3 separate regions of the Homo sapiens genome follow, and regions 1 and 3 are each linked to region 2. Evidence: fine-mapped expression QTL. A gene starts in region 2. Each other region holds a variant in brackets. All regions are shown on one strand. Distances are between the middles of the regions. Region 1 has its middle 110 kb from the start of LINC02752. Region 2 holds the start of RNF141 (ring finger protein 141). Region 3 overlaps AMPD3 (adenosine monophosphate deaminase 3).

What was found. PIP is the estimated chance that this variant, and not a neighbour inherited with it, causes the effect. A credible set is the group of variants that fine-mapping cannot tell apart.
Region 1: its variant is the best candidate, but not a certain one, in a credible set for the expression of RNF141 in putamen (GTEx, PIP 0.68).
Region 3: its variant is the best candidate, but not a certain one, in a credible set for the expression of RNF141 in spinal cord (GTEx, PIP 0.63).

What each region holds. Positions count from the first base shown.
Region 1 is chr11:11,218,995-11,227,353 of GRCh38, forward strand. No RefSeq gene overlaps it. Among named protein-coding and RNA genes, the nearest start is that of LINC02752, 110 kb to the left of the region's middle. The variant GC/G (reference allele first, on the strand shown) is at 5,341.
Region 2 is chr11:10,536,256-10,544,614 of GRCh38, forward strand. It overlaps RNF141 (ring finger protein 141), which reads right to left and starts at 4,932. Exons shown (of 6, transcript NM_016422.4): 1 at 4,867-4,932. It overlaps IRAG1-AS1 (IRAG1 antisense RNA 1), which reads left to right and starts at 4,981. Exons shown (of 4, transcript NR_046375.1): 1 at 4,981-5,287. RefSeq lists an enhancer at 5,008-5,117.
Region 3 is chr11:10,461,775-10,470,133 of GRCh38, forward strand. The region is part of intron 2 of AMPD3 (adenosine monophosphate deaminase 3); the gene reads left to right. Among named protein-coding and RNA genes, the nearest start is that of AMPD3, 11 kb to the left of the region's middle. The variant C/T (reference allele first, on the strand shown) is at 2,933.

The DNA of each region.
Region 1 (8,359 bases), 680 kb after region 2:
CGCTTATTCCCATTTCTGGGCCCTCGGCAGTGCGTTTTCTATTTCCCCACATCTATTTCTGCATGCATTTTATTTCCCCACATTTGTCTCTGAGTTTGGACCAGAGAGTTTGACCCTTCTCCAATCCTACTCTTATCCTTGTTGAGAGACTTCCAAGTATGGCCCCGGCTGCTGCTGGTCCATGATATTGTCTCTTGGGCCATGGAAAGAACTAGCAATAAGCTGATGATTGACACTCTCCCTACATGTCTCCCCCTACCTTCCTGCCCAGCCTGGTGCAGCTGCAGGATCGGGCTGTGGGTGTGTTACAGATGCATTTGGTAACCGTCTCCTCTCTCCTCTCACCCCTCGCCCCTCCACGCCATGGCTTCCCTCTGCAATATCTGCAACTCTCTGCCCAAGGAGGAGGCTGGAAGTACTGGGGAGCTGAGGCCCCTGGGAGCAGCCATCAGCCAGTGATGGACGGTCATTGGAGGATAAACACCCGGCTTCCTATTCCTCTGGTGGGGCAGCCGTGAAGTGTGTTCCGCATTATCAGGTGCCCCCAGTGAGCGTCCCCCCAGTTTCTCACAACAGCAGCTTGCTCATTTGCTCACCCGGAGTTGACTCTCCTCTTCTCCCTGTCTTATTTCCTCACTCCCCTAGATGAACTGTACCAACTACTTGTACTCAAATCCTTAGAGTCTGCTTCTTGTGGGGAGGGGAGTCCAACCTACCACAGGGTCCTACAGCCAATGTCCTTGATGGCTCCAGCTTCCATTCGGTGCCTTTTCAATGGGACCACAGTTCACAAACTCCCACGGTGGTTTCAGGACTGAGGGCACATACCAAAACTCCAGTGAGCGTGGGAGGAAAAAAAAAATATATTGTTTAACATAGGCATCTTTCATGGAAGCAAGTTATGGAGCTAATAATACTGATAGTTTCAATGGACCAAATTAAATTATGCTTCCCATCTTGTGTCTTAATTAAAGGGATAAAAACTGTTTCACATTTTAATTAGCAAGTAAGTCTTGAAAAGACTGAAATTAATATGGGAGTCATCACCATAGGAGAGTAGCCCTCTGCCAAGATTCATAAGGCCAGAGAGAGCACAGAGAACGGAATGGGATTCTGGCAGGAATGAGAGCAGCCACTGCTGGAACTCAAAAACTTTGGTTTCTTGAATTTTCTGAAAGGATAAAAGCAGGAACCTGGTAGAAGGCATGCCATTTCCTTTTCTAGAGAGGTCCACTTTCTCCATGTGAATCTTCTTTAAGACACTTAAACATCGCATCTAGAGACTATGAGAGTATAGAGGATGGTGGGGACAGAGAATGCCTGCTAATGACAGCTCTGCCTTGCTTCGCCCATCTCCTGGGATGTGAGTTCCTGGAGTTTCTGGAAGCCTTGTTGGCAGAGCCTGAAAACAAGGGGTTCTGCCTCACAGTTGTCTCAAGTCCGTGTCCTGTGCAGGTTTAGGAGAGGAGCCAGCGCTGATGGCTGTTTGTTTTCCCTCTGTCTGAAGAGAAAAACGGTGTGGGAGCAAGGCTTGCATGCTGCTACTGAGTGTTCAAGTCCTTCCACAGCCCTGTTGGCACATTTGTTTATTTTTTTTAGTTTGACTTTAAAAAATTTCACAAGTAACACATACTTGGGAAAAACAATTTGAAAATATATATGCAAAGACGAAAGAAACAAAACAAAAACGTAATCCCATCACTTCAGATAACGTGTTGATTTCCTCTTCAGGTCTGGCCCCGGCCCTGGTCCCGCTGCCCCTCCACCCCCATGTATCTGTATGTATTAGCAGTTATATCTGCTAATGTATCTGCAGATAACGTGGGGGTGGCGGGGTCGGGGAGTGGGGTCTGGCGCTCACATTCTCCTGCAACTGCTGTTTCTAAACGCTTGCTCCAATCTCCATTTGTAATTCGCTCTCACGTCTTCCCGTGGCTCCTGCTGGCTCTTCCAGCCTATTCTGATTCACTCCATTTCAACCATGAGCAAGCCCCACCTCCTTCATTTCCTAGAGGCAAGTTAATACAAGTCTGTTGTACAATGACCTGTATTAAAGGGTTTGGGTAAAACGGAATTGCAGCTGGAAAATGGAAGATTAGACAACATTATTCCTGCCACTCTCAGCTGAGCCCAAGGTCCTGCTACCAGATTTCTTGGCTCTGCCCCCTCTCCCCAGACTCTCCTCCCATCTTCTCACTTCTTGGTTGTCCCATGTTCCCCAGAACACCTTTCTCTTGGGTGCCCAGGGGATCGTGAGAGGCGTTTGAACCAGAACAGCTCCATCTTGAATAGGGCCTGGGTAAGATAAGGCTTGAGACCTGCTTGGCTGCACGTCCAGGAGGCTAAAGCATTCTAAGTCACAGGATGAGATAGGACGTTGGCACAAGCTGCAGGTCATAAAGACCTTGCTGATAAAACAGACTTCAGTAAAGAAGCCGGCTAAAACCCACCAAAACCAGCATGGCGACAAGAGTGACCTCTGTTCATCCTCACTGCTGCATTCCCACCAGCACTATGACAGTTTACAAATGCCATGGCAACATCAGGAAGTTACTCTGTATGGCTTAAAAAGGGGCGGCACTGATAATCCATTCCTTGTTTAGCATTTAATCAAGAAATAACCATAAAAATGGGCTCTGTCTATGGAGTAGCCATTCTTTCATTCCTTTACTTTCCTAATGAACTTGCTTTCACTTTACTGTATGGATTTGCCTCATTCTTTCTTGTGCGAGATCCAAGAACCTTGTCTTGAGGTCTGGATCAGGACCTCTTTCCAATAACAGGACCACTCTAGAGATCCTATTACTTTGTTGTGCTAAGTAATTTAGTTTTCTTTTTGTCTCAATGTCTTATATATAGACTAGCCCATGGCCTTCCCTATCATAGCCAAAAGGCCAGGGATTTTCTGAATCAAATAGACATCTACTATAGAGATGAATTTGCCATCCTTCTGGAAGGCAGAAATAGTGGAGTTTTTAATTTTATTTATTTTATTTTATTATTTTTTCCTTCCCATGAAATAAAAAAGCCTTTAGTGACTATTCTTTAAATTGGTGTGTGAGATGGCATGCACAACCTCTGAACAATATTTTGGACTTAGTTCTTAGAAGTGAAAGTCTAGGTGAGGAAATATGACCAATTTCAAGGCAATCTGCTGAATGGCCATGCAGAAGAAGGGCTCACCCTCCCTCCTGCAGCATGAAGTGAGAGCCTGTTTCCTCTTATCCTGACTAGCTTTGGATAATATAATTTACAGGAGAAAAGAATTATCCCCTTTGACAGGTACAAGTCATGCCTGCATGTTGATGTAATTTGGAAAGCTGTTTTGAACTGAGTGTGGTCAGAGCCTGGGAAGCCTGAGCCCTCTATGGAAACCCATGTGTCACCTTTTTCCCAACAGGCTTCCAAATGGAATCTTAAATTCTGCACGGCCATTTATCAGAGTTTCCAAATGCCACTTTCCAATTTGCATCAGATCTTTTCTACATATTAATATGATTATGTTACTAAGGTATATGTTTTTGCTGTTCTACCAAATTTGTGTTTGAAACACTAATGAGCCTACAAGGTGAGCTAGCTCCCTGGGGAAAAGGATTCATTTGCTTCTACTTGTGGATCATGAGGGCGTCCTGAGAGGGGCACGTGGAGTCAGAATAGTCTCTGGCAGTCCACTCTTTGTCTTCTGCTACCTCTGCTGCTAAATGTTGGGTCCGGCCCAATTCTTTTTTTTTCTTTGAGATGGAGTTTAGCTCTTTTGCCCAAGCTGCAGTGCAGTGGCACGAGCTCGGCTCACTGCAACCCCTCCACCTTCTGGTTTCAAGTGATTCTCCTGCTTCAGCCTCCCAAGTAGCTGGGATTACAGGTGTGTGCCACCACGCCCGGCTAATTTTTGTGTTTTTAGTAGAGACAGGGTTTCACCATATTGGCCAGGCTGGTTTCGAACTCCTGACCTCGTGATCTGCCCACCTCGGCCTCCCAAAGTGCTGGGATTACAGGTGTGAGCCACCGTGTCTGGCCCCAGCCCAATTCTTGACCTCTACCTTCTCTTGCTCTGGGCAAGGCCTGCTAGTTCTTTTTTTTTTTTTTTTCCCCACTCAAAGACAATGGACTTAGGTTAGAGGGGTTCAACCCATTGCTTTGCCCAGGAGTTTGTGTGTGTGTATGTATGTATGTATGTATGTATGTATGTATGTGTGTATTTATTTTGAGATGGAGTCTCACTCTGTTGCCCAGGCTGGAGTGCAGTGGCACGATTTTGGCTCACTGCAAGCTCCACCTCCCAGGTTCATGCCATTCTCCTGCCTCAGCCTCCCAAGTAGCTGGGACTACAGGTGCCAGCCACCATGTTTGGCTAATTTTTTTGTATTTTTAGTAGAGACAGAGTTTCACCATGTTAGCCAGGATGGTCTCGATCTCCTGACCTCATGATCCACCCGCCTCGGTCTCCCAAAATGCTGGGATTACAGGCGTGAGCCACCATACTCGGCCCTTTTTTTTTTTTTTTTTTTTTGAGACAAAGTCTCACTCTATTGCCCAAGGTGGAGAACAGTGATGTGATCTCGGCTCACTGCAACCTCCATTTCTCAGGTCCAAGCGATTCTCCTGCCTCAGCCTCCCAAGTAGCTGGGACTACAGGCATGCGCCACCATGCCCGGCTAAGTTTTGTATTTTTAGTAGAGATGGGGTTTCACTATGTTGGACTGGCTGGTCTTGAACTTCTGACCTTGTGATCCGCCTGCCTTGGCCTCCCAAAGTGCTGGGATTACAGGCATGAGCCACGGTGCATGGCCCGCCCAGGAGTTTTGTTGGCGGTGGGATCCAGGACCCAGATCTAAGTTAGGAGTCTTTGCAGAGGTGATTCAGGCCAGTGAGAGCCTGATGGTCAAACTATAGTCCAAGTTCTTAGAGAAAACTTTTCCCAGTCTCTGAACAACTACATTGCTTTGTCCTACAGGGGCCTGTTGTGGGTGCCTTTGAGTGTCATTCCTGGAGCAGGCTTCCAACTCTGAACAGTGGTTTGGACTCTAAAACAAGCTTCTGGAGCATATACTGCCACCCATTCTGTCCTCTCTGCTCCTGCTCTTCCCAAGGCCTGAGCATGAAGACAGATGTCACTACCAGTTGGGTCACTACCGGTTGGACCTTAGGGATGCGGGGTTTGTTTTGCCCACTGTAAACTGAAGGCAGTGCAATGGCTTGACCATGGGCCTGTCCTGCTGACCATGGGGCCCCCTGCTTGGTGTCAGTGCTGCCTCAGACCTTTACATAAGCCTTTCCTTACCCAGTCATTCACGAGGACCTGCCATCCCTTGAAGGGGAGCCACAGCCCCCAGGATGTCA[GC/G]CCAGGGTAGGCAACCTGGACTCCCCTTATTCATCCCCAGCCTGCTTCCACCCCAGACCCCCCTTTTGCCCCATTCTGAATTCTTGACTCCACATTCTGATTTTGATTCAGCGTTTTGAGACTTAGGACTTGGCATGTGTGCTTTGTCTTTCAGGATCTAAGCTTTCTCTGGAACTCTGATGGGCATCTGTTTTTCAGCTTTTCATGCTCCAAGATGCTGCAAGTGGCAATTCCTGTCTGGGCTCAGCCCTGGGCCCTCAGTCAGGGCCTCTGCAAGGCCAATGCCAGGCTTCCCTCATGTGCAGGGGTGCTTAGCAGGGGTGGCATGGAGAGGAAAGGTGAAAGAATCCCCTCAGCTCTGTGTCAGAGAAGCTGAATGCAACCCGTGGACAGTGGGTCGATAGCTAACTAGCCCATCCTTCCAAATCCTCATGCCCATCCTTCCAAAGGTACAGATGATCAATGAAGAAAAAACCAGAGGCATAATCTCCCCTTTCCTGCCCTATCTGTCAGGCCACACCCCCATGACAGGAACCTCACACAGCTTGGGCCTGCTCCTGCCTGCCCCAGCCCTTCTCAGCAGCAGACATCAAAGCTCTTCACCATCAAGACCCTGGATCCTCTGTGACCAGAGGGCATTTGAAACTTCAGCCAATTCTCCAAGTTGAAGAAGGAGGGTTTTGAGCTTCTATCATCAGTATGCAGTTCCTAAGGAGAGGCTCGGGCTCTTAATCACTGACCCAGGACCAGCCTCAGCCCAAAGCCAGTGGATGGCTGGTGTTTCCTGGTTTGACCTTAATTCTTATCAGCAGTAGAGCCTGTATTTGTTTTCCAGGGTTTCCACAATAAATTACCACAAACTGGGTGTCTTAAAACAATCAAAATCTATTCTTTCGATTATGGAGGCCAGAAGTTCAAACCCAAGATGTTGGTAGGGTTGGTAGAGTTGGTTCCTTCTGGAGGTTCTGAAGGAGATGTTTCTTCTCTAGTTTCTGGCAGCTGCAGCAATCCAGGGTGCTCCTTGGTTTGTAGACGTGTCATTCCAACCTCTGTGTCTGTCATCACATCACCTTCTCCTCTGCGTGTCTCATCTCCCCTTCTCTTCTAAGGACACAGTTCATTGAATTTAGGGCTCACCCAGGTAATCCAGGATGATCTAATCTGGAGATCTGTCTTTGTTTGTGTTGCTATAACAAAAGACCACAGACTGGGTAATTTATAAATAATAGCAATTTATTTCTCACCGTTCAGAAAGAAGTACAGGATCAAGTAGCCAGCAGATTCAGCGTCTATGAGGTCTACTGTCTCTGCTTGCAAGATGGCACCAAGTTGCTGCATTCTCTAGAGGGGATGAACACTGTGTCCTACATGGCAGAAGGTGGAAGGGCAAAAAAGGGGCAGACTCCCTCCTTCAAGCCCTTTTATCAGGGCACCTAATCTCATTCACGGGGACAGAGGTCTTATGACTCAATCACCTCCTAAAGGCCACATTTCTTAATACTGTTGCATTGGGGATTAAGTTTCAAAATACATTTTGGAGGGCACTAAATGTTCAAACCATAGGAAGCTCCTTAACTAATTACATCTGTAAAGGCCTTTTTTTCCCCACCAAATGAGGTCCCATTCACAGGTTCTAGGGGCTCTGGCCCTTTGCTGATTTCTTGCTCCAGCCTGTGAGCCTGGCTAACCTTATTTAGCTCCAAATCTCACTCACGTCTGAGTTCCTCCAGCAATACCTTCTCTATTTGTTGACCAAATTCTGCCCTGAATGTCAGAATTAATTCGAGTTTATTATACCCCATTAGACACAGAATAATGAAACACTGGACTCTGGCTGGCAAAATCAGGACACAGGCAGTGGCTCAGGGCAAGGGCGTGTGCTCTGGCGTGAGACAAATCTTGGTTCTTGGCTCCAACACTCACTCCCATTTCTGAGTCTTGGTTTCCTCAGCTGTAAAATGGGTTTGGATGATGATGCTTTTCTCAAGGTTGGTGCATATGTGCACAAGGCCCAGGGCATGAAGGATGGCATAGGGGTTTCTTGCCCGTTCCCTTCCTTTCTCTTTTTCCCATCCACCCTATGGAGTAAGTGTCTTTGTTACTACAGAAAAAAGAGGCAGGGTCCACAATGTGGTAATATTGTAATGTGTTAATGTCACAGAGTTATGCTTAAGAGGAAAAGATTTCCCTCCCACTCCTGGTACGAAGTAAGAAATAAGATAGAACTAGAAATCTATGGCCCAGGACCCTGAGAATTCAGAGCAGGGTGAAAAGATCAAGGCATTTCTGGAAAGAGAGAGAAGTGGCACCTCATTAGTCATTCAAGACAGATTCTGTGTGAAGTGTTTACTCTTATAATACAGCACCTGCAGAACTTTCCAGAATTTACAGGCATAACTAAAGGGCTGCAGGCAGGAAGTGCTCAGTGTCTTAATTCTGTCTCCTCCTAATTTCTTCTTGTGGACCAGCACTCTTTGTCCTAGCTTCCTCTCTTGCACACCAAGCCACTGCTAAGTCAAAGCTTGCCTTTTGATCCCATGATAGCACAGAAATCAAATACTCCCAACATCCCCTTATCCTCCTATGAACAGGCCAATGCAGCGCCCCATGTGCCAACCTTAAAAGCCACAGTTGCAATGACTGGCAGGAAGGATGATGATTAACACAGTTATTGAGTGAACAGTTGGGGTGAGGGTGAAGTTTAATCATTGGTTAGTTTTAATTGCAGTCTATCTCTGATTATGAGCATCACACAGTGCATATTTTCAGTCATGTCTACTTTAAAGCAAAATTGAGAAATAAGAAGGCTTATCATTGTCTGACAGTCACTATGGATTTCTGTGATGGGTGAGTTTAGTTTAAGCTAGTCACAGTTGACAATGAATATGCAAACAGATTCTAATGAAGACCTTTTCTCATCTCCCTACCTCATTGTATTATGCCACATTGCAGAGTGTGAGTATCTCTCTCCCATGCGCAACCCTGAGTGCCTGCTGGCCTGTCCCCAGGTTGCCTTCC
Region 2 (8,359 bases):
ACTCCAGGCAGAGGTTATGAAAAGTGCCTGAGACAGGAAGCAGCACGGTGACTTTGAGGTAATTTTTAAAAAGGCCACAAGGACTAAAGCAGAGAGGCAAAGGGAGAGGGAAACTGGCACCAAGAGTTGGGCTGTTTAACATTTTTGTTGATGACCTGAAGACTGTATGCCTGCCCAATCTGCGGATGACCAAAACTGGAATAAATGAATATTATCTAGTGAATAATAGGATCAAGACTAAAACAGACACTTACATGCTATTTAATATGACTAAAAGTTATATCCTGAAGAGCCAACTGCACAAAAACACATATGTAAGATGTGCTCAAAAGCAGTTAAAATACAGAAGGTCTGGGTTTTTGTTTTTGTGTTTTTTAAAGAGATGGAGTCTCTTTAAACAAACAGAGTTTGTTGCCCAGTCTGGTAACAAACTCCTGGGCTCAAGCAATCCTCCCGCCTCGGCCTCCCAGGCCGAGGATTACAGGCATGAGCTGCCGCACCCGGCCAAGTCTGGGGTTTTTAATCAAAATAAGTCAACAGTATAACGGGGGCAACAAGTATGCTAAAATAATCCTAAACTCTTGCTAGAAGCAGGTATCTTGAGCAAGCAGCCTACTAGTCCATTATGCTTTGCAATGGTTAGGCCACACTGAAAAGTCTGTATTCAGCTCTAAGCAGTTGGCTTTAAAGGATACTAATAAATTAGAACATATTCATGGGCATAGAAAAAAAAAGAGGTTTATTCTAGATAGTCATAGTTTGGTAACAATGAAGCAATATAAGTTTGTTTAAATATCTGAGGAGCTGTCATGTGGAAAAACAAGATTCATTTACAGAGAATGGGATGGCCACTAAGTATAGTAAGTATAAATTAGAAAGGCAGATTTCAGTTGATGATAAGCATGTCGCACCATCCAGAAGTGGAAATGGCTGCTACATGTGAGCTCCCTCTCATTGGAAGTATGGAAGTGTTTAGGTAAAGATTAGAAGTACATCTAATAAGTGTTACAGGGATTTTTACCTGGGTGGGAAGTGGAGTAGGTGACCTTTAACCTAACATTTTATTCCCAAAATGAAACTGAACCTTCCTCTAACATTCCTGTACCAATTTAATGAAAATGTAATTAAGATTCTAGTCAACCAGGCTGAAAACTTTGAATAATATCTACATTACTTAACAAAGAAAAAAACTGAACTTTTGAAATATATAGTCTCAATATTTAATATAAATACCTATGATAATTTAACCAACGTGGTATAGGGGAGATAGAATTTCTCTCCCTCTGCTCTCTGAGGTCTCCAGCTGGGCCCAAGAATTAAACTAACCTAAGACAGATTAACAGGAGAAAAACACACAAATTTTATTTAGTAATTTTTATACATACACAGGAGCCCTCAAGAAAAATAAGGACTAAAAAAAGTAATTAAGGCCAAAAGCTTACATAGTAGATTGGACAAAGGAGAAGTAAACTGTGAAAACATGACAAGACACAAGGGTTTGGGCTGGGCCAGTTAATCACAGAAAAGTGACTAGGAAGATAAGGGTTACTTTAAGAAGGCTTCTTTGAACACATTTCTCTCAGCTTTGATTGCCCACTTCTAGTAATGATAATGTCTTCCTCCTGGCATAGAGAGGACATCTTTCACATGGCTGTTTTATCTCCAGCCTTCAGGAAGAATTAGGAGGGTCAGTGGGCACTTCTTACATCTGCTGCTTTTCAATGTGCTTTTAACTCAAAATAATCCTTATGCCAAAGTGGCGTATTTTGCTACCCTACATTACCCACCAAAACCATATTTCAAAAGAAGAGTTAGTTGCTTATTTATTGAGTTATTAATAGAAAATGATCCCCTTTGTTTCAGCATTGTTTTCATCTGCTGCCCTAACTTTGAGTAAAGTTTATAATTTGAGGCAGCATATTAACTTGTTATCTTGTAACTGTACTTGGTATCTGGGAAACTTCATCACTAACTCCTTGCATTAAAATGCAACAGTATCTAGAGACTACCTGAGAGAGCCTGCAGAAGTGGTTTTCAACCTGGTTCCAGAAAGAGGGCTTGACATTTAGTTTATTTTGAAAACCATAAAATATTGATAAATATTAACATCTATCACTATATGGGTGTGAAAATAAGATATGACTCTGTGATCTGCATACAATATAAAACCACAACACAGAGTGCATGTTCACGAAAACAATCTGTTGAGGCCATCCTCTAGTCAACCACCACAGCTTTTCAGTGTCCCTCTTTGGTGACTGCACATATTTCTATCATACTATGACATTCGTTAAGTCACTTGGCCATTTCCCTCTAGTGAGCTTCTTGAGGACAGCAGCTATGGTCTGTCTTCTGGCAGATACACAAGCACTCAATAGATGTTTACTGAATAAATGCAGTAAATACCATTGGCAGTTTTTGTTTTATTATTATTCACTTAGTATTCTTTTGACTTTTGTTAATTTGGTCAGTCATCTATTAGTACTAGGTTGGAGAGAAGCAGAAGTTAAAAATATGTATGAAAGAAAATGTAAAACTGTGAAAATCTGTCATTAAATTAATGCTTATGTAAACTGGGAAACATTTACTATTTGATTTTAACAAGATACTCCCCCCTAGGCCATGCAACAGTGGTATTGCATAGAAACATAATTTGCAAACCACTGGCACAGAATTCAACAAAAGATGAATTTCTGGTCAAGATTTCTCAAAGAACTAGCAGCTCTCATATTATTGTGCCACCTATAACACAGTCATTTTTTGCAAGATAAAAATATGCTTTCAAAAAGCATTTGAAGGATTTTCTAAATAAAGAACTGTTATTTTGAAATGCACAAGATCAAGGATTCCAAAAATGCCACATTCTCTAGTGGGTGGTACATAGTGAATCACTTATTTTTCTAACAAATGAATTGTGGAAGTTCAAATATTCCTTATAAAAATATTAAAATTACATCATGGGTAACTGGCAAAGCAAAAACGAAAAAACTGCTCAAAAACTCCTAAAAATTTAAACCATAATTCATTCATAAAATAACTAAAGCAAAATGGAAAAGGCTGAAAATGCACCAAAATGACTAAATGACAAGTACTGCACTGTAGTATTTTAAAAACCTCTCTGAAACCAGTTCTCCATCAAATTTTGTATCAACCTCACCTAAAAGGATTTAATTGAAATAAACATCAATGATTTTCACTGTCAAGTCAACTTTAACATCAGTAATAAATACCAAGTACTACTGACTGGGTCCCTAAGGATATTATTTACTTTATTACTCATTGTTTACTCAAACTGTAGATCTGTAAACAGATATCAACTTTTTTTTTTCAAGACAAGTTAATATAGATACATAGTGAAATAATTAGGCCAGAGTCACTATAGAGTCCAGAATGCCTGTTCCAGAATCAAAGATCTTGATCAGAAAAAGATACATACATATATATTAGAGAGAGAAGGAGAGAGAAACTACAAAAGGATAGAGTGCCGTACTAGGAGATTAAGAATATGGATTTCTCACAGTAACAGTGTGTTTACTAAATGCATTTCATATTGGAAAAAGCATATTAGACTTGTAAGAATTCTCTCTGGACCTCCCTTGCCTTTTTGGGAAGGAAAGCGTGTTTGTATTTAGATGGGAACCAAGAAGGATCAGGCTACACACATCGAATATAAAGTTCATTTACACCAAATGACAAATATTAATTTTTGAAACATATAGTCATATTCTTGAGAAAAAGTTCTAGAAACTGAAGTCAGGCAATGTGAAAGAAAAGGATAAAAATCCATACTATTTTTGAGCTCTGAATTCAGAAAGCATCACTTCTCAGACGGGTGACTTCGACATGGAGGTGACTAATTTAGGATCGTCGGCCGGTGGCAGCTCATGCCCCCAGACAAAATTCTGAATGGGTAGAGGTCATTTTATAGCAAGAAGAATGGGCAGAAGGGAGTGAAAACGAATAAATTCGTGCTGAAGATGTAAGAATTATAAACAATTGAAAGTGTTCCAGCAGCTTTATATATATGCCAGAGGCAAGAACTGAATTAGCTGGCACCGCTAAATAGGACAGTGTCAGAATATAAAAGGTACACTACCTTTAATAAGGGGCATAGGGATCGATTTCAATAACAATCGTAAATCCACATTTTGTAACGCCGAGACAAATAACTGAAGGAATAATTTCAAAAGCTAACACAGAAGCCTTCTGCTCCTGCTGTGTAATCACTACCTTCTTATTATTAGCAAGAAAACGTTCTTTTCTTAGCCGGGTCTCAAGGTAGCAGCTAGTTTGACAAGGAAAGACCTTTGGGAAGGGTAGCAGCCTAAGCCAATTCATAAGTGTGGGGCTGGCTAAGTAGATCGACGTGGCTATTTCTGAGCTATCGTCCCAGGCAAAAGGTTTCTTATTTGGGTGTCCAGCCCGGCGGAGACCGAGCCCGCGGGCCACCCTAGCGCTCGCTCTGGCTACGCCGCCTCAGCCCCTCCTCAAGCGCACCTGGACATTTAACCAACAGCTAAGTCCGGCGGCCGAATGACTGAGCCGGCGGCAATATTCAAACAACCGTTTTGGGATAGAGAAGGAAAAACTCTCTCCGGGTCCCTCAGAACCACCCCGAGGCGGGACAAGCCACCGCCACCCCGGGCAACTGGAACCCGCCGGGCAGAAGACGGGCGTCAATAGAATGGCCTCCCCAGCCGTCCCCACGCCCCAATCCGAGGCCCGGGGAGGGCGGCGGGGCTAGGCCTGTCTCCCCGCGGAAGCCTGGCTCGGCAGCGGAGGGCCCTCTGGGGTTTCTCTTCCCAGACCCAGAGTCCTGGAGCAGCTAGCAAGGGAAACACGAAAGGACAGCGCCGCGGAGCTCACCCCAGGTTCAAGGCATCGCGCACCCTGCGGCAGCGGCTGCGCTGCCTCAGCCCACAGCTCAGACCTGCGGGTGGCCGCGACTCAGGCCGGGACCCGGTCGCACCTCTGTGACGCAAAGCCCCGCCCCCCGCGCGTTGCCGGGAGACGGCGCCCAACCTTCCTCTGCAGCGCCCCTACCGACCCGCGCTCCGCAGCTCCTGAGGGCTTTCGAGCCCAGATGGTCATCTGAGACGAGAGGTGGCGGCGAAGGAGAGTCTCGCCTGTCACGCTCCCGGAGCAGGGGCTTCATGAGGTGGCCATGGAAACAGCCTGGCAGACTCCCATCTCTCCTGGTGCCATCTCCGGAGCGGAAAGTGGAGCGCCCCGCTGGCGACCAAGGCCGCACTGAGAGCCCTGGTTTGGTCAACAGTTGGGCTCCAAGGTACCACTTCCCAGACCTCCAGCCTCCCCACTGATGATAGATACACAAAGGTCATCTTGTTTCTTTATGAGGCAATGGATTGTGTTCACCTAGCCGAGTTGTTAAGCATAAGAGAATGTATGAAAAGTAATTACAAGGTTCAAAATCCTGAGCTTTGATAAATGATAGATATGATGATGAGCACATGTTAGTGATATTACTGCTCTGCGGGACGTCTGAATCAGTAATTGCTGTCTTTTAAGCATCTGTTGTGTGCCAAATACTGCACTAGGCACTTTACGGGCATTGCTCTTGTTTAAGTCGTCTGGTCAAAGTTGCCTAGACAATAAACAGCAGAGCAAGGATTTTAACCCAGGTACAGCTGACACTGCTGCCTCTATGCTTAGCAGTTAAACTGGTTTTTATGTTTCTTGTTTGTACACCCCTCCTTCACCAGTCACTTGTAGATTCACCTTGTGAAGAGCTAATTCTTCCCTCTAATAATAATACTCTTTGACCATTTACTATATGTCAAACCGTATTTTAAGGACTTTAAAGGTATTAATTCGTTTAATCTTCACAGCAATCCTGTGAGTAGGTATTATTAATACCTTCACTAAGACACAGGCTTAGAAAAGTCGATTAACTTTTCCAAGGTCAAACAACCATTAAGGAGCAGAGCCAGATTCAAACCCAAGCAGACAGAACCCTGAACCTGTGTTTTTAATTCCTGTTTTAAACTGCCTCGGTAGTACGGTAAGACTTCATTAGCGCTAGGTCCATGCCTGTTTGTGCACCATTATTTCCCTGACAGCCAGCATGGTACTTGTTCAATATTTGAACATTTGATGAATATTTGAACACTGGAAAAGGAAAAAGCTTAAAAATGAAGTATAAATAATGATTTAATAAATTCCAAAAGATATCAAATTCAACAAGATTCCATAGTTCAGCCTAATCCGGGCCTGGGAGTTAGAAATATTACTCTGTAAAAATTGCCTTCAATTAAACATTGTATTGGAAGTTCTGGTCAATGAAATAAAAAAAGACAAATATATAAAAGGCATCCAAGTTGGAAAGGAAGTTGTAGCACTGCATTTATTTGCATAAGAAAATTGTGGAATACTACAAAAAAGCTGCTAGAACTCATAAGTGAGTTTACAAAAGTTGCAAGATACAAAATCAAATATACAAAAATCAGTTGTATTTCTATATACTAGCAATGAACAATTAGAAATGGAAAATTTTTAAATATCTCTTATCAGCAAAAAAAAAAAAAAAAAAAAAAGCAGCAAATTTGGGACAAATTTGACCAAAGATGAGAAAGACATGTATACTGAAAACTATAAAATATTATGGAATAGCAAAGACATGGAATCAACCCAGGTGCTTATCAATAGTGGATTGGATAAAGAAAGTGTGGTACATATACGCCATGGAATACTATACAACCACAAAAAGGACTAGATCATATCTTTTGCAGCAACATGAATACAGCTGGAGGCCATTGTCCTAAGCAAAATAATGCAGAAACAGGAAACCAAATACCGCATGTTCTCACTTATAAGTAGGAGCTAAACGTTGAGTACACAGACACAAAGTTGGGAACAATAAACACTGGGGATTCCAAAAGGGTAGAAAAAACTACTATTGGGTACTATGTTCACCACTTGGGTGACCTGGATCATTAGAAGCCTAAACCTCAGCATTGTTCGATATACCCATGTAACAAAACTACACGTGTACCCCCTGAATCTAAAATAAAATAAAAAACATTGTTAAGAGAAATTAAAGAAGACCTAAATAAATAGAGATACATTATGTTCATGAATCAGAAGACTGAGCATTTTTAAGATATCACTTCTGCCTAAATTGACCTACAGATTTAAGGAAATTCCAATAAAAATTCTAGCAGATTTCTTTTTGATGGAAATGACCAAACTAATTCTAAAATTTATATGGAGATGCAAAGGACCTAGGATAGTCAAGACTTTCATCAAAAAAAACAAAGTTTTGGGACTTACACTACCTGATCTCAAGACATTATAATAAGAGCTACTCAACACAGTATAGTATAGGTATGAAAATAGATAGAGTAATGGAACAGTATATAGAACCCAGAGATGTATCTATACATATGTCATCAATTGATTTTCGACAAATATGCCAAGGCAATTCAGTGGGGGAAAAGATAATCTTTTCAACAAATAAACCTGAAAAAATTGAATAGCATATGCCAAAAAACTCTTAATATCTTGCTCCTTTCCTCATACTGTCACAGGATCCTTGGAGTGTTGCTCTGCCAGCCAGAAACCTCTGTGGCCGGTGGCTCCTTTGCCCGAGTTTTGCTCAGGCCCACTGGGCTCATTCTGCCCATTTGGCCTTGCAGGCTGCACTCGGCTCATGCCACTGGCCCAGATCCCATGCCTGCCAAGGACGAGCCAGGCGCAAAGTGGTGAGGGGTGCGTGAGCAAGTGAGCGCGAGGTCTGGCCGCTGTGCACAGCTAGGCACGCCAGCTGTGGCGGGGCGGGTGGCTCCAGGTGCTGGCATGGGCGCTGGCTCCTGCAAAGCTGTGGCTGGACCAGGAGTACCACAAGCGGCTTCCACTGCTGGCACTAGGGAATGTGGTGGCACCTGGAAGCTTTGAGATGCCAGGAAATGCAGAGCCCCCAAGAGGGTGTTACAGTCCTGGCTCAGGGAGCTCTTAGGTCTGGGCTTCTCGAAGTGTCAAAGCTCTTCTCTCCTTCTCTCTTCTGTCCTTCTCATCGCTTGCAACATGGGGAGTGAGGGGGTGTTTCAGCCCTGTTTGTGTTACAGTTCTTTCAGTCCTGCCATTTGGCAGGTCCCAAGTTGTTGTCCCACATCCAGGAATAATGAGGTATGCAGACAATTGGAGGGTGAGTAGGGTGAAGAGGTGCTTTATTGAGTGACAGTATAGCTCTCAGGAGACTCTAAGTGGGTAGCTCCTTTCTGCAGGCAGGTTGTCCGGTTGTCTGCCCAGCTCTCAGCTGAGAGGAGACCCACAGTGGGTGGCTCCTTTCTGCAGGCAGGTCGTCAGGATGTCTGCTGAGCCCTCAGCAGAGAGGAGATCT
Region 3 (8,359 bases), 74 kb before region 2:
AGTCATGCAGACCCAGGCAGGCTGTGGGTGTGTGTCCTGATATGAGGCACCTCATGGGGACTGGTATGTCCCTAGAGCTGTGTTGGTTCCTTAACCAAGACCACTTAACTCACCTCTTATTTATTGAGGGATGTCTCGGTGCCTCTGTTGCACTGAAAAGATCAAAACCCACTTTGCTGCTGATGTGAAAAAATACACACCATTTCCAAATGGCATTTCTCTTTTCTTTTTGGAAATTTGAGGATTTCTTAGGAGACAGCAATTGTATTTCTTCTCATCACTTGACAAGCATTTTGCATTACTAATGAACACAGCTTACTATTTGCCGGGTGCTGTGCTGGGACTGGAGATGTTATAATGAACAAGATAGATAGAGTCCCTGGGTCTAGACAATAATTAAGTAACTGGACAAATTAACTTAAAAATTACAAGTTATAATAAGTGCTGTATCAGTCAGGGTCCAACTAGAAGATCAGAAACCAATGAAGTATTAGAATTTTAATGCAGGGAATTGGTTACACAGGTGGTAGAGAGCTGAGAAACCAAACAGGGGAGAGAGAGGCGGCTCAGAGATTAGACACAGTAAGGAGCAGCTACTACCCAGGACAGGAGTGACAAGGAAAGCAGTAGTGTTTCTGGAGCCAAGGTGGAGTCGCCCTGGGGAAGGTGGAACTGTGGTGGACTTTCCAGTGGAAACTGGAGCCAAGGGGAAGAGGTGGCAGCTGCAGAGATGCCTCCCAAGGCAGAGATGGAGGCAGGCAATACCTCGTTTGACCCTTTCTGCACCTTCCAGGTTCTCCCAGTGGCTGCCATGGGCCAAACCTAGCCAGAATCCTGCTGGCACACTTGGGAAACACAGGAGAGGATGAGGAATGGATCTGAGGGCAAACAGGCCCAGGAGCAGCGCAAGTGCTATGAAAGAGATGAATAAGGATGAGATGGGGTTAGGGGAGAGAAAGGCCGGGAAAGAGAGAGAAAAAATCCTTTTTTAGACTGGGAAGTCAGGGAAGGCCTCTCCAAGGAGATGACATCTTAGCGGATGCTTCAGGGTATAAAGAAGCTAGCTATGTGGCCTTCCAGATAGAAGAATCAGCTAGGGCAAAGGCCCCCCAGTTTCTTCCAGAAGGCCCATGTGGTTAGAGGTCTGTTAAAGGAAGAAGTGCTGTGACCAGGGCTGGAGGACTTGTGGGGCCCAGATCAGACTGGCCTTGTGCTCCCTGATAAGAAGTTTGGATTGGAGTCTAAGTGAAATGAGAAGCCCTCATCCTTTCACAGTTTATCTCACCCTGGGCTTTATCAGATTTTCTGCCTGCCCGGTACCCTGCAAACATCAATAGTTGACATGGTAGACCTTTGAGCCCTCTCCGACCTAGTCTGTGATCACACTAGATACTGCCTCAGTTTTAAAGGCAAGTCTTTTCCTTTCTTGGTTGTGTAGAAGCTCGCATTTTCTTAACTCGTTTGGAAAGAAGTAAAAAGTTGACTACTGGTGTAAAGGCAAGAACAGAGCTTCACCACTCATAAGACCAGTGCTTTCCTTCCTTGAAAGGATGGTGAGCCCATAAAGGCAGGAGTCACTGGTGCCATTGGTTAACCTCTGAGTGCCAGCCTTGTGTTGGATAAGGTGGGGTGGCCCCAGCCCCAGCAGTGTGCTCATCCCTGGAGGGTCAAGAAGAGTATGACTGTAGAGACCCTCATTCACACTCCGTGGGTGGAACAGAAGGGCTGACTTCATCAAGTGAATGGTCTGCAGGGCCTTCTGTGTGTTATGAATTGAGCATTTGAGACCCTTAACAATGAGAGGAAAAGAAATCCTGGCATTTTTTATTACTAGGAACAATAAGTTTCTGGAACCAGTTTCCACTACAGAGTGACACTGGGCCTGACATCTGCTGAAGCGACTGTGCTCTTCTCAATGCCCAGACTCAGGGCAAAATGGAAGCTTTCTTACTCTAAGTCTTAATGGTGCTCTGTGGTTTCCAGAAATTCCCCTGCAAACTTCTCTCCAAAAACTTTGTTCTGTCCTTGCCTAGGTTATGGTGTCTTAGTTTGCATCTGTCTGCGCCATTTGACTAGACGCTCCTTGAGGACTGGATCCATTGTGGAACTTAGTTGGTGGGCAGTGGATGTCTGGCAGAGGAAGACATCCTGCCTCCCCATTGCCACCATGGACACTACATCAGGGTGGCTGCAACTTCTTGGACCTCTGTGTTCTGCCACTCACTGTCATGCTCTGTGACTTTGGGGAAATTAGGAAACCTCTCTGGGCCTCAGCCTCGTCCTCATCTATAAAGTGGAGATGCTAACAGCTACCTTCATGGGGTGTTGTGAGGAATGAGGGAATCCACAGGTAAAAGGCTTCGGACAGTGTCTGGTTATAGTGCATCCCGAGTAAATATAAGTGATTTCTCTGACTTCCTGCTGCTGAGACAGGGAACAATAGCAGCTCCTGCCATTGAATACTTACTATGGGCTAAGTACTAGCCTGTGTAGGTTGGATTCATTCTTTAATTCTCACATCGAGCTTATCAAATGGATATTCTTAGTATTCTGATTTTGCAGATTAGGGAACGAAGGCTCAGAGAAGTTGAATTTACTTTCACAAAGACACATAGTGAGTAAATGACAGAGCAAGAACTAGAGCCCATATCTTTTGAATCTAGACCCCACACTTCAACCATAAGGCTATCCCCTCTTCAGGTAGGGGTGGAGTCTTCGGTTCCCTGGTCTGTAGACCCTGGAATGACACTAGGTGCTGCTCCCTAGAATGTAATTGTTGCTTCTAAATGAAATGGAGGGAAACTGGTCAAAGCTCCCGCTCTGTCCATCGGCTTCTTTCCTGAAAAAAAGCTTGGTCCCTGGACTGTCAGATGCCCCAGCATCCTCCTCTGGGGTCTGCCCATACCCAATTTTGTCTTTTAGTTTCTCTTCT[C/T]ACTAGAGGTGCCTTTATATGTAAATGTTCGAAAGTTAACATTTTCATGGAGGACACCCTCTCCCCAGCTCCCTCTTTGTCTGTGGCACCTCCCATCCCATCTCCTATTTATTCTTACTTTACACAGAATTCTATAATCTGGCTATATTGTTTCTTATCCCGTGGCAGATTTAAAGAAGCAAATTAGAAGCAGGGAGAGAGACTTCTACAGGCAGGGTCACAGAGGTGATGTGTGGTGATTATAAGCCTGGGCTTTGGGGTCAGACCTATTGGGTTCAAGTGGCAGCCCTGTCACTTACTACTGAATGGCCTTGGTCAAAGCTCTTGACTGCCTGAGCTGGTTTCCTAAACTGCAAAATGAGAATAATAAAAGGACATACCTTGTGAGAATTAAATGAGCGAATACACAAAAAATCCTTAGCGCAGTGCTTGGAGCACCATTAATGTTCCTGTTTTGTTATTGTTGTTATTAGACAGTCAACAGTGAGAGAGGAAACAAAATAATTATGAAAAGCAGGCACAAGAATTTGAAGCACAGTAGTTTAGGGATAACACACCTCTGAGATCATAACTGGATAATACAGTGATGATCCTGGGTCATTGAGAAAACTTTAAATTATGTTCAGCATGCTTTGAGGAAGAATGCAGGAATTATGTATTTTTTTAAGAAGCCAGATAAAAATTGATTTTTAAAAAATTAGGATATAGTTAAGGCTGGCAAGATGGCCAATTAGGAACATCTCCGGTCTGCAGCTCCCAGTGAGATCGATGCAGAAGGGGGTGATTTCTGCATTTCCAACTGAGGTACTGGTTCATCTCACTGGGGCTAGTTGGACAGCGGGTGCAGCCCAAGGAGGGTGAGCCAAAGCAAGGTGAGGCGTTGCCTCACCTGAGAAGCACAAGGGATGGGGGAATTATCTTCCTTACCCAAGGGAAGCCTTGAGGGACTGAGCCTGAGGAACTGTGCACTCTGGCCCAGATACTGTGCTTTTCCCATGGTCCTTGCAACCTGCAGACCAGGAGACTGCCTCTGGTGCCTACACCACCAGGGCCCTGGGTTTCAAGCACAAAACAGGGCGGCCATTCAGGCAGACACTGAACTAGCTGCAGGAGTTTTTTTTTTTTTTTTTTTTTCTGTACCCCAGTGGCGCCTGGAGCGCCAGCAAGACAGAATCATTCACTCCCCTGGAAAGGGGGCTAAAGCCAGGGAGCCAAGTGGTCTGGCTTGGCAGGTCCCAGCCCCATGGAGCCCAGCAAACTAAGATCCACTGGTGGCCAGGCGCAGTGGCTCATGCCTGTAATCCCAGCACTTAGGGAGGCCAAGGCGAGTGGATCACCTGACGTCAGGAGTTCAAGACCAGCCTGGCCAACATGGTGAAACCTCATCTCTACTAAAAATACAAAGATTAGCCGGGCGTGGTGGGGGGCACCTGTAATCCCAGTTACTTGGGAGGTTGAGGCAGGAGAATCGCTTGAACCCAGGAGAAGGAGGTTGCAGTGATCTGAGATCGCACCATTGCACTGAGCTTGGGTGACAAGAGCAAAACTCCGTCTCAAAGAAAAAAAAAAAAGATCCACTGGCTCAAAATTCTCACTGCCAGCACAGCAGCAGTCTGAGATCAATCTGGGACACTCAAGCTTCGTAGGGGGAGGGTCGTTGGCCATTGCTGAGGCTTGAGTAGGAGGTTTTACCCTCACAGTGTAAACAAAGCCACCAGGAAGTTCAAACTAGGTGGAACCCACCGCAGCTCAGCAAAGCTGCTGTGGCCAGACTGCCTCTCTAGATTTCTTCTCTCTGGGCAGGGCATCTCTGAAAAAAAGGCAGCAGCCCCAATCAGGGACTTATAGATAAAACCCCCATCTCCCTGGGACAGAGCACCTGGGGGAAGGGGCAGCTGTGGGCACAGCTTCAGCAGACATAAATGTCCCTGCCTGACAGCTCTGAAGAGACCAGCAGTCCTCCCAGCACAGCGTTCAAGCTCTGCTAAGGGTGAGACTGCCTCCTCAAGTGGGTCCCTAACCCCCGTGTATCCTGACTGGGAGACACCTCCCAGTAGGGGCCGACAGGCATCTCATACAGGAGAGCTCTGGCTGGCATCAGGCAAGTGCCCCTCTGGGATGAAGCTTCCAGAGGAAAGAACAGGCAGCAGTCTTTGCTGTTCTGCAGCCTCCACTAGTGACACCCAGCCAAACAGGGTCTGGAGTGGACCTCCAGCAAACTCTAGCAGAGGGGTCTGATTGTTAGGAGGAAATCTAACAAACAGAAAGGAATAGCACATCTAATCAGAGACCACATCCGAAAATCACCAGCATCAAAGACCAAAGATAGATAAATCCACGAAGATGGGGATGTAAACCAGTGCAAAAAGGCTGAAAATTCCAAAAACCAGAATGCCTCTTCTCCTCCAAATGATCACAACTCCTTGCCAGCAAGGGAAAAAAACTGGACAGAGAATGAGTTTGACCAATTGACAGAAGTAGGCTTCAGAAGGTGGGTAATAACAAACGCCTCTGAGCTAAAGGAACATGTTCTAACCCAATGCAAGGAAGATAAGAACCTTGAAAAAAGGATAGATGAATTGCTAACTAGAAAAACCAGTTTAGAGAAGAACATAAATGACCTGATGGAGCAGAAAAACACAGCACGAGAACATTGTGAAGCATTCACAAGTATGAATAGCTGAATCAATCAAACGGAAGAAAGGATATCAGAGATTGAAGACCAACTTAATGAAATAAAATAAGAAGACAAGATAAGAGGAAAAAAAATGAAAAGGAATGAACAAAGCCTCCAAGAAATATGGGACTATGTGCAAAGACCAAACCTACGTTTGATGGATGTACCTGAAAGTGACGGGGAGAATCGAAACAAGTGGAAAACACTCTTCAGGATATTATCCAGGAAAACTTCCCCAACCTAGCAAGACAAGCCAACATTCAAATTCAGGAAATACAGAGAACACCACAAAGATATTCCTCGAGAAGAGCAACCCCAAGACACATAATCGTCAGATGCCCCAAGGTTGAAATGAAGGAAAAAATGTTAAGGGCAGCCAGAGAGAAAGGTCAGGCTACCCACAAAGAGAAGCCCATCAGACTAACAGCAGATCTCTCTGCAGAAACCCTACAAGCCAGAAGAGAGTGGGGGCCAATATTCAACATTCTTGAAGAAAAGAATTTTCAACCCAGAATTTCATATGCAGCCAAACAAAGCTTCATAAGCAAAGGAGAAATAAAATCCTTTACAGACAAGCAAATGCTGAGAGATTTTGTCACCACCAGGCCTGCCTTACAAGAGCTCCTGAAGGAAGCACTAAACCTGGAAGGGAGCAACCGGTACCAGCCACTGCAAAAACATACCAAATTGTAAAGACTATCAACACTTCGAAGAAACTGCATCAACTAATGGGCAAAACAACCAGCTAGCATCATGATGACAGGATCAAATTCACACGTAACAATATTAGCCTTAAATGTAAACGGGCTAAATGCCCCAATTAAAACACACAGACTGGCAAATTGGATGAAGAGTCAAGACCCAACAGTGTGCTGTATTCAGGAGACTCATCTCAAGTGCAAAGACAGACATAGGCTCAAAATAAAGGGATGGAGGAATATTTACCAAGCAAATGGAAAGAAAAAAAAAAAAGCAGAAGTTGCAAGTTTAACCTCTGATAAAACAGACTTTAAACCAACAAAGATCAAAAGAGACAAGGAAGGGCATTACATAATGGTAAAGGGATCAATGCAACAAGAAGAGCTAACTGTCCTAAATATATATGCACCCAACACAGGAGCACCCAGATTCATAAAGCAAGTCTTAGAGACCTACAAAGAGACTTAGACTCCCACACAATAATAATGGGAGACTTTAACACCCCATTGTGAATATTAGACAGATCAACGAGACAAAATTAACAAGGATATTCAGGACTTGAACTCAGCTCTGGAACAAGCTCCAACCCAAATCAACAGAATATACATTCTTCTCAGCACCTCATCACACTTACTTTAAAATTGACCACATAATTGGAAGTAAAACACTCCTCAGCAAACGCAAAAGAATGGAAATCATAACAAACAGTCTCTCAGACCACAGTGCAATCAAATTAGAACTCAGGATTAAGAAACTCACTCAAAACCACACAACTACATGGAAACTGAAAAATCTGCTCCTGAATGACTACTGGGTAAATAAGGAAATGAAGGCAGAAATAAAGATGTTCTTTGAAACCAGTGAGAACAAAGACACAACGTACCAGAATCTCTGGGACACATTTAAAGCAGTGTGTAGTGGGAAATTTATAGCACTAAATGTCCACAAGAGAAAGCAGGAAAGATCTAAAATCAACACCCTAACATCACAATTAAAAGAGCTAGAGAAGCAAGAGCAAACAAATTCAAAAGCTAGCAGAAGACAAGAAATAACTAAGATCAGAGCAGAACCGAAGGAGATAGAGACATGAAAAACTCTTCAAAAACTCAATGAATCCAGGAGCTGTTTTTTTTTTGAAAAGATCAATGAAATAAATAGACTGCTAGCAAGACTAACAAAGAGAAAAAGAGAGAAGAATCAAATAGACACAATAAAAAATAATAAACGGGGTATCACCACTGATCCCACAGAAATACAGACTACCATCGGAGAATACTATAAACACCTCTATGCAAATAAATTAGAAAATCTAGAAGAATTGGATAAATTCCTGGATGCATACACTCTCCCAAGTCTAAACCAGGAAGAAGTTGAATCCCTGAATAGACCAATAACAAGTTATGAAATTGAGGCAGTAATGAATAGCCTACCAACCAAAAAAAGCCCAGAACCAGACAGATTCACAGCCAAATTCTACCAGAGGTACAAAGAGGAGCTGGTACCATTCCTTCTGAAACTATTCCCAACAATAGTTTGGAGCTGGTACCATTCCTTCTGAAACTATTCCAAACTCATTTTATGAGGCCAGCATCATCCTGATGCCAAAACATGGCAGAGACACAACAGAGAAAATTTCAGGCCAATATCCCTGATGAACATCGATGTAAAAGTCTTCGGCCGGGCGCGGTGGCTCACGCCTGTAATCCCAGCACTTTGGGAGGCCGAGGCGGGCAGATCACGAGGTCAGGAGATCGAGACCATCCCGGCTAAAAACGGTGAAACCCCGTCTCTACTAAAAATACAAAAAATTAGCCGGGCGTAGTGGCGGGCGCCTGTAGTCCCAGCTACTTGGGAGGCTGAGGCAGGAGAATGGCGTGAACCCGGGAGGCGGAGCTTGCAGTGAGCCGAGATCCCGCCACTGCACTCCAGCCTGGGCGACAGAGCGAGACTCCGTCTCAAAAAAAAAAAAAAAAAAGTCCTCAATAATATACTGGCAAACCAAATCCAGCAGCACATCAAAAAGCTTATCCACCACGATCAAGTTGGCTTCA